3 linked regions of the Homo sapiens genome follow. The protein of the gene in region 1 purifies or fractionates together with the protein of each later gene. This does not show direct contact. Each region holds a gene or a part of one and is shown in the gene's direction. Other genes may lie near its edges. The genes, in order: FGF3, ZNF593 and ANKHD1-EIF4EBP3.

Region 1 (3,755 bases):
CCCAGGTGACCACACATCCCAGCCCAGGCCTGCACAGGGCTGCACTGGACAAGCTCTCCTCTTGCTGCTGTCCTTTGGGGCTTTCCTGTCACCAGCCTCTGACCCCTGTAACACAGTCTCCATCAAGAGTCTGAGGCTCCAGTAGTTCAGTGGCTGGCCTCTGGCCTGTTCAAGGACTCTCACAAGCTGGCCCTGGGGCAGCGGCTAGGAGACCCTGACTAAGACTGAGGTGCTCGGGGATGGCTTGGGGGCGCCCTCCTTCAGGATGGCCACCTGGACCCTGTGCACGCTGGAGTGGGCTCACAGAGGACACACTGCCCTGTGTGTATTGGGCCATGGGAGCTGGACACGTCCCAGGGGTGTGTGCTCACTGCCACAGCTCATGGTGCCCTGCACACTTGCCTGACCCCAAACCCTGATGCAGATGGCAGGCTGGGGAATGTCAGCCCACCCAACTCACCCCAGAGCCCCTGGTCAACTTGGAGCCAAAGCTGTGGCCTAGACCCCTGGACTCCACAGCGTGCCCTCCTCTGGGGCAGGGTTGAGAGAAGCAAATCCCCTGTGCTGGCCCCTGCTTCCTGCTGGCCCCAGGACCCTGGGGGACAGAGGACCAGGAAGCAAGAGAAATGGGTGGGGACATGGCTTTTCCCGATACTTTTTGAAGCCCCTCTTCACTGGGCCCCCTGAGATACACCTTGACCCCCACACAGTCCAGGGGACCACCTGGGCATCTGCACTGATTCAGATCCTCCAGGCCAGGACTCCCCCACACCCATTCCCAGCTTCTACCGGGTTCCTCTTGTCATCACCCACCCGCTGTGGCTACCAGACTCCCTGTGCTTTTCTCTGGGTGTTCTCCGCGGCTCTGTCTTCTTTCCATCTCCCCTGCCTCCTCTTTTTGGCGATCTCTGTCATTCACATTTTCCATGTCTTTCCCGTCCTTTCCTCCTCCGTTTCTGTCTGTCTCTATCTGCATCTCTTTCTCTCTAGGGCTCTCTGTCGGCGCCCACTTCTCTGGCTCTCGCGTCCCTCCTCCCGCCTCCCCAGGCCCCTCTCTGGACCGTCACTGGGACGGGATCCTCCGAGGCCTGCCAGACGAGAGCTAACCCCACCACTCCGGGTGCCCAGTTGGTGTGCGCAAAAGGAGATAGCATCTCCAGACCCGGCCTGCCCCGCGCCTTGCAAGGCTGAGGACAGCGCCACTGCTCCTGCAGGAAGCGCCGGGCGCAGACACAAACCCGGAGCTCCCCACGCGTGCCCGCGCCCCGGAGCCTCCCTGCCGCCGCCCTCCGCGGTCCCCTTCATTATGCGCCGCCTTTAATGGGCGTTTGTCAGCTCGACTTCCCCGCAAGTTGTTTTCACGGACATCAGTCATCGGCGGCGGCCCCATTGTGCAGGGGGATTGATGGGGAGCGGGAGGGGGTGACAGGGCCTGGGGCGGCCTCCTCAAGGCCTCGGTCTATAATTTTCGGAGGCATAATTGGTCTGGGGGAGGGGGCGGGGGAGGGGCGGGTAGGGGACCTTTCAGAGCCAGGAGGGCTTTCGGGGGCGTGGGGCGCGCTGCGGAGCGGAGCCGCGGCTCGACGGCGGTGCGCTGGCGGCGAGTGTATGCAGACGGCGCCCGGCCCGAACCCCGAGCCCCGCGGGGCTCCCCACCCGCCGGCCTCCCGCCCCTCCCGCGCCTCCGCCTGGGGACCACGTCGGCCTTTTGTTGGCGAACCGTCCTTTCTTTCAGCGCTTTGCGCAGCAACGGAAATTTCATTGCTCCTGGGTGGAAATTAAAGGGACTCGCGTTCCCTCTCTCCCTCTCCCTCTCCCACTCTCCCTCTCTTTCTCTCTCTCGCCCACCCTTCCCCCTTCTTCCCCCACCTTTCCCGCGAAGCCGGAGTCAGCATCTCCAGGCGCGGGATCCCGCTCCGAGCACCTCGCAGCTGTCCGGCTGCCGCCCCTTCCATGGGCGCCGCGCTCGCCTGCAGCCGCCGCCGCCGCGGGGCGGGCGCGATGCCACGATGGGCCTAATCTGGCTGCTACTGCTCAGCCTGCTGGAGCCCGGCTGGCCCGCAGCGGGCCCTGGGGCGCGGTTGCGGCGCGATGCGGGCGGCCGTGGCGGCGTCTACGAGCACCTTGGCGGGGCGCCCCGGCGCCGCAAGCTCTACTGCGCCACGAAGTACCACCTCCAGCTGCACCCGAGCGGCCGCGTCAACGGCAGCCTGGAGAACAGCGCCTACAGTGAGTGCCGGACGCTGCGGGGCCCCGGGGGAAGCGGCGCCGGGAGGGGTCGGGCCCGGGAGAAGGCGCGCTGCGGGGCCCCGCGGGGGAGGCGGCGCCGGGGAGGGGTCTGGCCCGGGAGAAGGCATGGTGCGCCCGGGGTGTCCGGGAAAAGACCGTCTGCCTCCCGCTGCCAGAAGGGGAATGCCAGGGTGCCCTCCTCAACCTACACGTCCGGGAGAAGAGCGCGCGCTGGGGTTCGAGCAGAACTCGGGGGCATGGGCGTTCACGTCCGAAGAGGGCGCCGGCGGCTGTCAGAGTCCGTCCCCGGTCCGGCCCGCTGGTCTGAGGGGACGCGAGCTAGGCGACCCCGGGGCTCCAGGCTCTGCTGCTTTGGGCAGCTCTGACAAGTTTAAGCCCTTTGAATGTGTCGGAGAAAAGGAGCCGGACAAGGCATTTATCATCCTCTTTATTATTTTGACGACTTCTCCTCCTCCTGCCGACCCCTGGACGCCCCGCCGTCCCCTCCGCCCTCCCCGCTCGCGGCTGCCCAGGTGGCCGCCCCCGCTGCTGCCTCTGCGCGGAGGACTCTTGCCCTGCGGAGCTCGGTTCCCTGGCCGCGGCCGCCACCGACAGTTATTCCCCGCGCTGGAATCTGCACCTCCCCCGCCTCCGCCCTGGCCGCACAGCGACAGGAGGGTGGAGGCCCTCGCCGTCGGGACGTGCGGATCACGAGCGCGGAACGGTGTCCGCCCGGGCCTGGGGGTGCAGACACACACACTCCGGCCCCCGCACGCAGGACCCGCGGCCCGGGCTGCGCTCACCGCGGGAGTCTGCCGGACTACACGGTTGGGCTCCTCTGGTCACAGGGACCTGAGGCCCGCGCCGAGCCCTTTGAGGAGCAGGATAGCGGAGCTCAGGGCCCGGGAGGACCGCGTGGGGAGCGTGGGAGGGCAGTCAAGACCACAGCTGTCCTCGGGTGCTCCGCGCGGCGCTCGGCTCCGGCCCCGGGCGCAGGAAGCGGTTCCGCCGCTTGAAGGTGGCGGCGGCGGCCTCAGCAAACCGCGGCTTCCTCCAGGAAAGCCGCAGCCCTGAGAGGGCGTCCTGGGGACATGCGCCTCCGGAGCCGCACGGTGGGCACCAGCTGTCACCAGGGGGTCCGAGTGCGCGGAATTCGTCTCACTAAGACACTCCGGTTCTCTCCAAAGCCAGGCTCCCCCTCGGAGTCGCACAGCATCCAAACTTCTTGGTGTAGGCTGCTCACGGGGAGGGGAGGGCGCGCGCCCGCAGCCGCCCCTGTCCTGCGTCGAGACTCGTGCTTCGCTGGTCCCCGGTCAGGCACCGCCGATGCCGCCCAGCCTGCGCACTGGGAAGGCGGGAGGCTCGCAGCCTGCACCACAGCACCCCTGGGCTGGAGCAAAAGCCCGGTGGTGACCGCGTCTGTGCTCGGACCGCGTGCCAGGAGGGCGCTCCTGAGAGGCATGCCTTGGAGAGGGTGCAGGCAGTCGCCCCAATCCCCTCGCAGCCTCTATTGGGAGACAATGACC
Region 2 (3,121 bases), on another chromosome or scaffold:
GTGCCCCACTTCATACTGCTCATTCCTGCTGCCCCTCTGCACATGCTCCACCCACCATGCATGGATGGCACCCACCTCCTCTGCCAGGTCTTCTTCAGATTCCCCACTCAGGGTCTGTAGCACTTTGGACTTGTAGGTTTTCCAGAAGGCCTGGTTCATGGCTGCAGGGGGAAGGGGCCTGGCACGCAAGCACAGGAAGGTGGTGGCTCAGTGGATACCAGTGAGTCTGGCTCTAGGAACTTGGTGAGGCCAAGAGCCTGTCCGAGGGATCCAGTGACTTCATTAAAGATGCACCAGCCTCCCCAGCTGGCACAGTGCCCAGGAGGTGAACCTGATCCAAAGGAGTCGGGGAGTGGGGGATGGAACAAGCTTCTGCCACCTTAGCCCCTTGTCTTGACCCATATTGGCCAAGAATAATGAAGTCATTTGTCTCTAGAGAGGCTTTCTTCCTGGGCCTAGGAGTACTTGAGTTGTTCATCTCTTAGCATGCCTCCAGGAAAATCTTCTTCCATTCACAAAATCCTGAGGTCTGGGACCCACACTGGAGCCCCTGTGACTGTAGTCATACTAGTTGTGTCCTCAGCAGGGCTCCACCCTGTGTCCCTACTTAGCCTCAATGAACTGGAGCAGGAAGGTCCGCAGGCCCCCAGTGGGCACCTTGGGCTTACATTTCACTCCTTTGTCTGGGCTGGAAACTGATTCCTCTCCCCAGGGATACACGTGCCTGTCTCCTTGTTTCCTGGCAACAGACTCCAAAGAGCTGGAGCCCCTGAATTATTGCTAAGCTCCTCTGGCCCCTTCCAGCTGAGTTGGCTCTGGCCAGCCTGGGAGGCACCAGGCTCCTGTGAATGGGGAAAGGCCCTCTAGCCACTCTGAGCATGCAACACCTAGGCCTTTGCTGCCAGCCCACCTCTGGGAGCCCAGGGCTTAGAGAAAGGAGGCAAAGATGGAGAGGTCCTTCTATGAGTACTTGTGAGAGGAACTGATCCCTCTGGAGTCTGGATGCCTGAGGACTGCACTCTCTGGGGAGGAACACCCTTCACGGATTTGGTTGGGGTCAGAGAGAGGATGGAGACTCAAGGGAATAACGGGAGCCCGGAGAAGTGAGGGCTTTTTCAGGGACTGGAGATTATCTCGGGAAGCCCTGGTGGGGCTGGGATTCCAAACTTATTCACTCTCAGTCATTTACTAATTTATTCATGACACAGACATTTATCAGTGCTTTCCAGAGATAAAGCATCCCACCCCCACCGCGGAGTCCAAGGTCTGGGAAACAGGAAGGGATGACAGGAGTACAGGTTGGCACTGATACTGGTTGGACCAGGCCAGGAAGAGCAGGGCAGCAAGACGGCCCCGAAACCCCCAGGCGCACGCACCACCCCGCGCCTCCCCAGCGAGGGCCCGCGGGGCCATGCCCTTCAGTGGGCACACTTCTGGGAGCCCGTCCTGAGCTCGGTCACTGACGTCGACGGCCGCCTGGCGGCGCTCGAGCCGCTGGCCGAGAGTGACGTCATCAGAGGCGGTCCGGCCGAGCCTGCCTAGCCCCCCGGCGTGGCCTGACGTAGCTGATCGGCCCGGAAGTGCTCACACGTGTGCTCCCTGCCCTGCTCCTGGCCCCTTGGCCGGCCGGGCTGTTTCTGGCCATGGGTCGCTCCCGCCGGACAGGCGCGCACCGAGCGCACTCTCTAGCCCGGCAGATGAAGGCGAAGCGGCGGCGGCCGGACTTGGATGAGATTCACCGCGAGCTGCGGCCTCAGGGATCCGCACGACCCCAGCCCGACCCAAACGCCGAGTTCGACCCCGACCTGCCAGGGGGCGGTCTGCACCGCTGTCTGGCCTGCGCGTGAGTCCCGGACGAGCCCGGCCTGGGGCGGAGGAGGGTCCGCGGTACCGGCCGGGAGATGTGAAGTTGAAGCCCCAGGCAGCGCAGAGTCTTCTCTCTTGGGACCCGTGGGTCCGCCCGCCTCCCGTTTCTCAGACCCGGATCCTGGCGTCAGGGACAAGCTAGGGCTAGGGAGATAGGTGCACTTGGGAGACTATCACCTCCTCACTCTCCTTCTCACTTCCATTCCTACAGGAGGTACTTCATCGATTCCACCAACCTGAAGACCCACTTCCGATCCAAAGACCACAAGAAAAGGTATGAAGGAGTAAGGAGAGGATTGATGGATGGGTGCTCAGCAGATAGGGCTCTCACCTGGTCAGCTCCCAACTCCTGTTTTTCTTTCTCCCAGGCTGAAGCAGCTGAGCGTCGAGCCCTACAGTCAGGAAGAGGCGGAGAGGGCAGCGGGTATGGGATCCTATGTGCCCCCCAGGCGGCTGGCAGTGCCCACGGAAGTGTCCACTGAGGTCCCTGAGATGGATACCTCTACCTGACATGGCCTGAAGATGCAGGGCAGAGGAATTGCCCATGGACAGTGACGCAAGGACTAGGCTGGGAGGGAGCGTGCCAACCCCTTTTGCCTCTGGGTTTGGGGAGCGGAGGGCCTCTTCTTGGTGCCCTGCCCCAAATAAAGGAACTGGACAAAGAGAACTTGCCTCCAACTCTAACTTCCAGGCCGCTGTCTCAAACTCCTGCCCTGGAAGGGCTTCTCTACTACTTTCTGTACACCAGGCCTAGGGTGTCTACTCCCCACTTGGTCTATCTCTGCCTTCCCTCTGAGGTCCTAGCATCTGAACTGGAGCACCCAGATGGAGGCCTGATGCAGTGTGGGGTGGCGGGAGTGGGATCAGATTACTCTGTCCTGCTTCTGACAGAGACTGATCCCCAGAAAAGAAGGCTTCTGAGATTGCACCCCCCTCCCGAGTCACCTACCCCCAGCATCCAAGTGAGAGTCTCTCTTCTTCGTTACGGGGCCCGTGGCACCCGCCGCTGCCCCACCATCTTCCAGACGGCATAGCAGGAGCCACCCAGGCCGAGGACAGCTAGCACTGTAGCCACAACTCCTGCCAGCAGACTCCGGGGCTCTGCCTTCAGCTCACCAGCTACCTGCATCTGGAGGTGCACAGAGGGTGTGCCTCAGGGGTCAGTTGAGACTGCCAGGAAGGTGGGGAGTGGGAAAGGGCTGAGTAGATGTAGCTAGGGGAAGGAGACATGGACGCCGGTCCTGCCCCAGGGAGA
Region 3 (3,633 bases), on another chromosome or scaffold:
TTATAGGTGTGAGCCACCACGCCCAGCTGATTTTTTACTTTCTTGATGATTCCTTTGAAGTATAAAAGTTTTTAATTTTGATGGTGTCCAGTTTATTTTTTCTTGTTGGCATTTATAAATGTGTTTTGAGAGTAACATCCATGGAAATCCCTGTGTATCATAAAAATATCATTTCATTCTTTATTTTACATTACTGCCTTATTGGTAAAATTATATACCTGCTTTATTTCCAGTCAAGAGAAGAGAGCAGAAAGCAGGCTCTTGCTGCTAAAAGAGAAAAAAGAAAAGAAAAGAGAAAAAAGAAAAAAGAGGAACAGAAAAGGAAACAGGAAGAAGATGAAGAAAACAAACCTAAGGAGAATTCGGAACTACCAGAGGATGAAGATGAAGAGGAGAATGATGAAGATGGTGAGAAACAAACCATCTGAATTAACGATAAAATTCTCCTTTGTTTATCAACTTCATTTTGAGTGCTCTTTGCTCTAGTTAACTCTAGTTAAACATTTGATTACTTTATTAATCTGAAATGGACAATGACTTTTATAGTAAATATTTGTAAGTGTTTTGCATTGTAAATTAATGCAGAGAAACAAGAGGGAAAACAAGCGCATAATTTGAATAAATTCAGTTGTAATTTAAGTCACCTTGTAAAACACTGCATATATACTAAAAGCAATACAGTGAGAAGTTTGCCACCTTTTTTTGAGATTCTTCTCTAACTCTTCCTCTCCTGATTAGAAGTAAAATTTCTCAGTTTACTTTTAGCTGAGATTCAGGCTCAAGGATATAGAGGCCTGAAATGTCAGTAGAGATGGGTTTAGTACTCTCAAAGAGTTATTTATTGTACTGTCTGGCAGTGCTTGTAGTAGGCAAATAATTTTGTTCTACTTGGATTCTAATTCTAAAATACTATTTGAAAAATGTCCTAAATTCAAATTATATTGTGGTTTGGGTTCATGAGACTAGAATTAAGAATATTAAGAATATTGGGCCGGGTGCAATGGCTCACACCTGTAATCCCAGCACTTTGGGAGGCCGAGAGCGGATCACGAGGTCAGGAGTTTGAGACCAGCCTGACCAATATGGTGAAACCCCGTCTCTACTTAAAAAAAAAAAAAAATTACAAAATTAGCCTGGGATTACAGGCGTGGTGGCACATGCCTATAATCCCACCTACTCAGGAGGCTGAGGCAGGAGAATTGCTTGAACCTGGGAGGCGGAGGTGGTGAGCCGAGTTCACGCCATTGCACTCCAGCCTGGGTGACAGGAGCAAAACTCTGTCTCAAAAAAAAAATAAAAAGAAAAAAAAGAATATTAAGAATGTTGCTAGTATGTGTGTCCTATACCACCTTAGACAAGAAAATATATTTTATATTTGTTCTAACAACAAATAATAGTAAATATTTATTAGGCTAACAAGAGCAAAGATTTTTTTTGTGTGTTTTTTTGAGATGAGGTCTCCCTCTGCCACCCAGGCTGGAGTGCAGTGGTGCAATCTCGGCTCACTGCAACCTCTGCCCCCCAGGTTCAGGTGATCCGCCCACCCCAGCCTCCCCAGTAGCAGGGACCACAGGTATGCACCACCATCCCCAGCTAATTTTTGTATTTTTTGTAGAGACAAGATTTCGCCATGTTGCCCAGGAGATCTTGAACTCTTGAGCTCAAGTAATCAATCCACCTGCCTTGGCCTCCCACAGTGCTGAAATTACAGGCATGAGCCACTGCACCTGGCCACAGTAAAAGATTTCTTTATTTCAGCTGGGCGCAGTGGCTCACACCTGTAATCCCGCACTTTGGGAGGCCGAGGCGGGTGGATCTTGAGGTCAGGAGTTTGAGATCAGCCTGGCCAACATGGTGAAACCCTGTCTCTACTAAAAGTACAAAAATTAGCCGGGCATGGTGGCACATGCCTGTAGTCCCAGCTACCCAGGAGGCAGAGGTTGCAGTGAGCCAATATCGCACCACTGCATTCCAGCCTAGGCGACAGAGCAAGACTCCATCTAAAAAAAAAAAAAAAAGATTTCTTTATTTCTTAGTGAATACTGGTGAAAGGAAAATATGATGTAAAACACTGAATTATTATGAATTATCAAATATATTCTGTCAGAATTTGTTTTGAGATCTGTGACTCAGTATGATTTTTATTCTTTTTAACAATTTCAGTGGAGCAAGAAGTTCCCATAGAACCTCCTAGTGCAACCACCACCACTACGATTGGAATCTCTGCAACATCTGCAACATTCACAAATGTGTTTGGGAAAAAAAGGGCCAATGTGGTGACAACTCCCAGCACCAATCGGAAAAATAAGAAGAACAAAACAAAAGAAACCCCTCCTACAGCACATTTAATTTTACCAGAACAACATATGTCTTTAGCCCAACAAAAGGCAGATAAAAATAAAATAAATGGAGAACCTAGAGGTGGTGGTGCAGGTGGGAATAGTGATTCAGATAACTTGGACAGCACAGACTGCAACAGTGAGAGTAGCAGTGGTGGTAAAAGCCAAGAGTTAAATTTTGTGATGGATGTGAATTCCTCTAAATACCCCTCACTGCTCCTTCATTCCCAAGAAGAAAAGACAAGTACTGCTACTTCCAAAACTCAGACACGGTAAATTTTTCTGATTTGTTAACTCTACCTGCACCTTTCCTTCTTCATGCCTGGTACAAGAATTTGAAGTATATTAATCCAAGTACAAGTTGTGTTAAACAATTGAAGTCTACCACATTATCTATCTTCAATATTCAAAACTGAAATTCACCCATGTCCTCTTTATCATTTGCTAGTTAGGAAATGAGATTATTAGAAATTTTTATAGGATTCATAGTCTGAAGTTGAAAATATTTGCATGCTTTGATTTTATCTATGTCATTTTTATTGATTATAGTCTAATTTTTGGCATCTGAATCCATTTTAATACTAAAATAAATGATGGGTTCTTTGCTCTATTTCTGTTTTTCTGACTCATTGATTATTTGATGTGCCAAAGTTTAATACGAATATTTCAGCGTAACTCTGGCTATAAAGGAATAGTCTCTTGAGTTTCTATCTTAAAACTTATCTTTTATTGTACTTGCTATTTGTCTCTTCTTAGACTTGAAGGTGAAGTGACTCCTAATTCCTTGTCAACCAGCTACAAGACAGTGTCATTGCCATTAAGCTCTCCAAACATAAAGCTGAATCTCACTAGCCCTAAAAGGGGTCAGAAAAGAGAAGAAGGGTGGAAAGAAGTTGTACGAAGGTAAATAGAATTAGTTCCATCTTTTTAGCTTTCATATATTTTCCCTTTCTCATGTGAGATGGCTACCTAGTTAATTAATGAATAATTTGAATGTGGTTATTATTTTAAACTGCATTGCCACACTAAATCCAGAATATGCTAAAGCAAAATTAGAAGCAGTATGTAAATTTTGCATGCATATTTTATATGACACAAGAAATTTTGGCTTTTTTGGATAACCTCAGTTGCTTTTTATGTAGTTCAAATGTAAAGGCTTTCTCTTGCTTTTTTTCTTTCTCATGTCTCAGTAATTCTAGAACTAAAGTACTAATAATCAACTTTAGATTCAGAATACATGTCAGCTCATCATTGACCTGAGGCTTTATTTTTTATTGCTAAGTATGAGCTGTTG

The links.
Region 2: the proteins of FGF3 (region 1) and ZNF593 purify together in Homo sapiens (affinity purification with mass spectrometry; 2 studies listed by BioGRID and IntAct, with this or other methods). This does not show direct contact.
Region 3: the proteins of FGF3 (region 1) and ANKHD1-EIF4EBP3 purify together in Homo sapiens (affinity purification with mass spectrometry, with the first as the bait; 2 studies listed by BioGRID). This does not show direct contact.

The regions. Positions count from the first base shown.
Region 1 is NC_000011.10:69,817,188-69,820,942, reverse strand, and holds the start of FGF3 (fibroblast growth factor 3 precursor), read left to right. Parts: upstream 1-1,526; 5' UTR 1,527-2,009; coding exon 2,010-2,229; exon of another isoform or gene 2,230-2,235; intron 2,236-3,755. UniProt on the Homo sapiens protein: Plays an important role in the regulation of embryonic development, cell proliferation, and cell differentiation. Required for normal ear development.
Region 2 is NC_000001.11:26,168,341-26,171,461, forward strand, and holds ZNF593 (zinc finger protein 593), read left to right. Parts: upstream 1-1,567; 5' UTR 1,568-1,643; coding exon 1,644-1,843; exon of another isoform or gene 1,844-2,077; coding exon 2,078-2,140; exon of another isoform or gene 2,141-2,234; coding exon 2,235-2,376; 3' UTR 2,377-2,533; downstream 2,534-3,121. Other genes in the region: uncharacterized protein C1orf232, read right to left, coding at 76-159; transmembrane protein ZNF593OS, read right to left, coding at 2,849-2,995. UniProt on the Homo sapiens protein: Involved in pre-60S ribosomal particles maturation by promoting the nuclear export of the 60S ribosome. Negatively modulates the DNA binding activity of Oct-2 and therefore its transcriptional regulatory activity.
Region 3 is NC_000005.10:140,523,833-140,527,465, forward strand, and holds part of ANKHD1-EIF4EBP3 (ANKHD1-EIF4EBP3 protein), read left to right. Parts: intron 1-233; coding exon 234-408; intron 409-2,163; coding exon 2,164-2,611; intron 2,612-3,095; coding exon 3,096-3,242; intron 3,243-3,519; exon of another isoform or gene 3,520-3,596; intron 3,597-3,633. Other genes in the region: ANKHD1 (ankyrin repeat and KH domain-containing protein 1), read left to right, coding at 234-408, 2,164-2,611, 3,096-3,242. UniProt on the Homo sapiens protein: May play a role as a scaffolding protein that may be associated with the abnormal phenotype of leukemia cells. Isoform 2 may possess an antiapoptotic effect and protect cells during normal cell survival through its regulation of caspases.